Linked DNA regions of Homo sapiens: region 2 is linked to region 1. Evidence: fine-mapped expression QTL. A gene starts in region 1. The other region holds a variant in brackets. All regions are shown on one strand. Distances are between the middles of the regions.

Region 1 (2,810 bases):
GCCCAGGGATGGGCTGAGTGAGGGGCTTGGCACTCTGTGGAAGCTGCAGATGAGAGACCAGCAATGCATCAGCTGCACCTGAAATGTAATCAAGAATTCCTTCCAGGGGCTCTCAGAGACCCAGAGTCTGGTGAGTTCTAGAAGCCTGAGACTGGGTGGGGGCTGGGGAGTCTGGGTCTGAGGCTCCAAGTTCAGGAACCAGGGATCCTAGCCTGGGAGTTTGGAGCTGGGGGCTCCTTGGAGCTCTTGGGGGACAGGAGTGGCTGGGGAGGGTTTGGGAGGGTGTCACCGCTGGATCTAGGTCCCAGGTCTGTGAGTGCAAGGTGGCCTCAGGGACCTCCAGGGTTGGGTCTTGGGGGTGGGCTGTGGGACTGATTTTAGGGCTGAGGCTGGTCTGGAGGGTCTAGGGGAGTGGAGAGCATGAAGGCTACACTGGGTGTTCCTATAATCGAGTCTGGAGTCTTGAGGTCTGGGTTAGTTTTGGAGTCTGGGAGCTTTGAGATGTGATGATCTGGGGAGTGGGGGCTGGCTTTGGTTCTGGGGACTCCAGGGTGAGGGGGTCTAGGAGCTCTCAGTCCCCAGAATTAGCCAGCCCTCTCTGGGAAGTACAGCTGTGGGCGGGTGGGTAGGCGGAAGATTCCAGAAGGTGGAGGGTTGGCTCTGAATCTCAGAGCTGGGGCGGAAATCTCCGTCCCAGGGGCCTGGGCTGCAGGTGGAGTGGGGACCGGGTGCTGGGGGTGAGGAGAAGGAGGACCTGGTTTGGGTGAGGACTCTGAGATGGGGGCCTCCAGGACTGGTTCTAGGGAGGCCTGGTGCTCCCTGTTACAGTCGGGAGCTCAGGGGTGTGGAGCAGCCTCGGGGCTTGGGTGGTGGGTGTGGGGGCTTATGCGGAGCTGGGGCCTGGGCCTGGGGTGGGCTCGGAGCTTTGGGCGGCCGGGCACCTGCAGTAGAGCGCGGAGATAGCGTTGGACCAGTCTCCTAAGATGCCCCGGCGGTACTCCTCCAGGCGCGGGTAGGTGCCGGCAGAGAACTTGTGCGTCTTGCCCGCCTTGCCTTGCCGGGACCACACGGTGAGCTCGCAGCGCGGGGCCACCACAAGTGAGGAGGCGGTGTTGGCCCAGTTGGAGGGCAGGTAGGGCAGGTCTGCGCCCGACTCCAGCGACAGCTCGGCGCCCCCGCAGCAGTTCTCATAGTAGGGGTCGCTCTTGTCATAGAGCTTGGCGCAAGTGCGCGTCCCGTCCGAGTGCTTGAGGTCGGCGGAGGCGGGGCAGGCGCCCTGGGCGCAAGGCACGGAGGCAAGGGCCAGGGCCAGCAGCAGCGGGCGCAGCGGGGACATGGTGGCAGTGCCCTGCCGCAGCCCCGCGCGCTTTTATGCGCCCGACCCGTGGGAAGGGACAAGCTGCGAGATAAGGACTCATCGAGGGAAGGGGAGGGCGCCCCTCCCTCAGGAGCCGGGAGACCTGCCTAACCTAGGTCGGAAGCCCACAACCCTGAGTACAAGGTGGACGCTGTGTATACAACTTAGCACCTTAAGATGTTAGGTGACCAACAACATTATAAAGAGAGACAATAGACAGAACTTGAGGAGGAGTCATTTGCAACACAGAGGGTGGCATAGGTTAATAGACAGAAATGGGAAGAGCTCTTAAAAATTGACAAGGGGCTTGCTGGTTGCTCACGCCTGTAATCCCAGCACTTTGGGAGGCCTAGACGGGTGGATCGCTTGGGCCCAGGAGTTTGAGACCAGTCTGGGCAACATAGCAAGATCCCATCCCTACTGAAAAATAAAATTAGCTCAGCGTGGTGGCATGGCCTGTAGTCCCATCTACTCACAAAGCAGAGGCGGAAGGATCGCTTGAGCCCGGGAGTTCGAGGCTGCAGTGAGCCGAGATCGTTTCACTGCACTCCAGCCTGGGCAACAAAGACAGGAAAAAAAAGATAAGGAATGGAACAACCCTTATTCTAAATAAGGAAAGACTGGGAGGGGGAGGCAGGAGTGGGAGGCTGGGGCCTCCTGGCTGGGCAGGCTCCCTCCCTGGGAGGCAGGACCTTGGGAAAGGAGAAGCTGGAGATAAGGATAGAGGCCCTCGTGGTGGGGCGGGGGGGGGCAGGTAGAGAAGGAGATGGGGAGGAGCCCAACGCCCCACCCCCCACCCCCACCAGGCTCAGACTGGGCAATCTTCCCAACCAAGGCTGGCAATCCAGAATCTGTGAAGTACAAGATAGCAGTATTTGCATAACACGTTAAAAACCTTTTGCAAGACAGTGTACAAAGGCTTGAGGAGATATTTGCAACATTTCAAAAGCATAGCATTGCAAGCTATAATATATAAAGAGTGCACACAGGTTGGGCGCGGTGACTCACGCCTGTAATCACAATACTTTGGGAGACTGAGGCAGGTGGATCATTTGAGGCCAGGAGTTCGAGACCAGCCTGGCCAACATGATGAAACCCCGTCTCTACTTAAAGTACAAAAATTAGCCAGGCGTGGTGGCACATGCCTGTAGTCCCAGCTACTCGGGAGGCTGAGGGATGAGAATCACTTGAACCCAGAAGGTGGAAGTTGCAGTGAGCCGAGATCGCGTCAAAAAAAAAGAGTGCATACAAATTGACAAGAAATGCACTCCTCCCTCCCACATGCTAAGGACAGGCCTAGGAGAGGGAGAGGGAGGGAACAGCCTGCAACTCCCACCCCAGGAGCCAGGAGACTTTCTTAACTAAGGTTGGAAATCTTCAATCTATAAAACTTCAATCTTGTTTTATAGATTTTGAGCTGTATAAAACTGTAAAAACTGTCATATAGCAAAAA
Region 2 (2,810 bases), 980 kb before region 1:
ATATCCACAGACACACACCAGAAACACATCACCCACACAAAGACACACAACATGGAAACATCACACCACACACACATACACCCCCTCATGCATCCAAAGACACAAGCATGTCAAAAGACAGGAACTACAGAAACCACTTGCGCCCCTAGGCACTTACCCATGTATCCAAAGACACAACACAAACCACACACACAATATCCAGACACACAACACAAAGAAATCACACAGATTCACACAGGTACACACACACATTTACAAAGATGCACGATGCGCAACCAGTATCTAAAATATCACACATCCACACAGACACACACACATATAAAACACAGAAACAGCCAAATCCACCCATAGTCACACAAAAATTTACACACAAATACACGCAGCCCTACATACCCAAAAACACAGAACACAAGACAAATGACATATAGTTCCAAAGGACACGGACACACACTGGGAGACCCAAATATCCAAAGATATCTAGTGCAGAATAAAAGGAAACAGACACATGTCCACACACCTATCCCCCAAAAATTCTTAAAAAAACCAGAACACAAATAAGTGATACACACACACACTCCACATCCCAAGACAAAGGTAGTGTGGACTTCACTCCAGTTGCCAAGGCCCCCGCACCCCCGGGTCATTTCAGTCTCTCCCAGACCCGAGGGTTGCAGGGAAGGGATGATGTCTCCCTTCCCCAAAAAGAATCTGGAGGCCCCCCACGCCCTCCACCCCGCCAGGGAGCGGTGCATCCGACACCATTCTTGTCAGAGACCCACAGTCACACACTCTCGCACCCCCGCGCAGCCCCGCACTCGGTGACAGCCCCCCAGACACCCCTTCGGCCCCACCCCCGGTCGCCACACACACACAGGCCCGCGTAGACCCGCCCGCGCTTCCTCTCCGCCTCCCGCCGGCCCGCACCACCTCAGGGGGCCAGGGATGACAGTGGCCATCTTGCTCCCCGGGTCCTGCCCCCAGCAGGTCCCCGCCGGGTCGGTCCTCCCAGCGGTCGGGCGGGCGCTGAGGCCGCCCATCCATTCATTCCCGGGGGGCGGGAGCACGAGGGCCACGGCCAATCGCGGCGACGGGGCGGGCCCGCCCGGGCCATGCTGGGAGTGGTAGTCCCAGGCCAGGGGGCCCCCGGGACCCCGCGGGGACGGGACGGCGCGGAGGAGGGGCCCGGGGCACGCACCGTCACTCACCCGCCCTCACTCGTCCACATATCCTGCTCTCGCGTGCACACAACCACATGCACACCTGGACTCGCACACGCCCACGCATGGCAGTTTACACACACATTCACGCGGATACTCACAGCCTCCCACACACTCCTACTCACACACCTTCGCACGGACTCACACAGCCACACGCACACACACTGCAATACTAAGAGACGCAGAGACACCTCCCAGGTGCCCACACAGACTTCTCACCAACATGCTTCCAGCAGACACCCCCTCACCGCCCCCCACCCAAGTCCCTCCTGGCTCCA[G/A]AGACCCCACCCGGGGCTGTCTCTCCCAGCAGCCACGCTCACGGTCACCCCGCCCTGCTCAACGCCTTCTGCAGGCCTGACAGCAGCAGTGCAGGTTAGAAACAGTAGTCACACCTCCAGGGTTCAAATCCTAGCTCTGCCACTTGGTGGCCATGTGACCTTGGCAAATGACTTAACCTTTCTGGGCCTCAGTTTCCTCATCTGTAAAAAGAGGATGATGCCTCACTGGAGTGTTGTGAGGATTAAATGAGTAAATATAGGTAAAGCATTTTAAGAGGTGACTGGCAGGCCAGGCGCAGTGGCTCACACCTGTAATCCCGGCACTTTGGGAGGCCCAGGCAGGTGGATCACCTGAGGATGGGAGTTCGAGACCAGCCTGGCCAACATGGTAGTAGTCTCTACTAAAAATACAAAATTAGCCGGGCATGGTGGCGCATGCTTATACTCCCCCACTCAGGAGGCTGAGGCAGGAGAATCACTTGAACTCAGGAGGTGGAGGTTGCAGTGAGCTGAGATCGTGCCATTGCACTCCAGCCTGGGCAACAAGAGTGAGACTCCCTCTCAAAAATAAATAAATAAATAATAAGAAAGAAAGAATAATGCGGCCAGGTGCGATGGCTCCAGTCTGCAATCCCAGTACTTCGGGAGGCCTAGATGAGAGCACTGCTTGAGCCCAGGAGTTTGAGACCAACCTGGGCAACATATCCAGACCCCTGTGTCTACAAAAAAAAATTAAAATTAGCTGGGCATGATGGCGCAGCAGTGTAGTCCCAGCTACTTGCAAGGCTAAAGTGGGAGGATAGCTTGAACCTGGGAGGCTGAGGCTGCAGTGAGCTGTGGTCTCACCACTGCACTCCAGCCTGGGTGGCAGAGCGAGACTCTGTCTCTAAAAGCAAACAAACAAACAAACAAACAAACAAAAAACTAAGTAAGCAGGGCGCCGTGACTCATGCCTGTAATCCCAGCAATCTGGGAGGCTGAGATGAGAGGACCGCTTGAGCTCAGGAGAACAGCCTGGGCAACATAGCGAGACCTGGTCTCTACTAAAAAAAAAATAAATAGCTGGGCATGGTGGCACATGCCTATGGTCCCAGCTACTCAGGAGGCTGAGTCAGGAGGATTGGTTGAACCCAGGAGATCGAAGCTGCAGTGAGCTATGATCACACCACTACACTCCAGCCTGGACAACTGAGCAAGACCCTGTCTCCAAAAAAAAAAAAAAAAATAGATGCTCAGTAGATATTTGTTGAATGAGTAAATGCACCCATCATGTGCTGGGCACAGTTCACCCCGGGATGCTTTTATTATCTGCATT

Evidence for each region.
Region 2: its variant is fine-mapped to the expression of SYCN in fibroblasts (GTEx, PIP 0.96).

What each region holds. Positions count from the first base shown.
Region 1 is chr19:39,202,919-39,205,728 of GRCh38, forward strand. SYCN (syncollin) reads right to left here and starts at 1,345. Exons shown (of 2, transcript NM_001080468.4): 1 at 942-1,345; 2 at 1-78. The coding sequence starts at 1,336. The coding sequence ends at 69.
Region 2 is chr19:38,223,187-38,225,996 of GRCh38, forward strand. It overlaps DPF1 (double PHD fingers 1), which reads right to left and starts at 1,036. Exons shown (of 12, transcript NM_001135155.3): 1 at 928-1,036. The coding sequence starts at 956. RefSeq lists a silencer at 801-1,370. The variant G/A (reference allele first, on the strand shown) is at 1,496.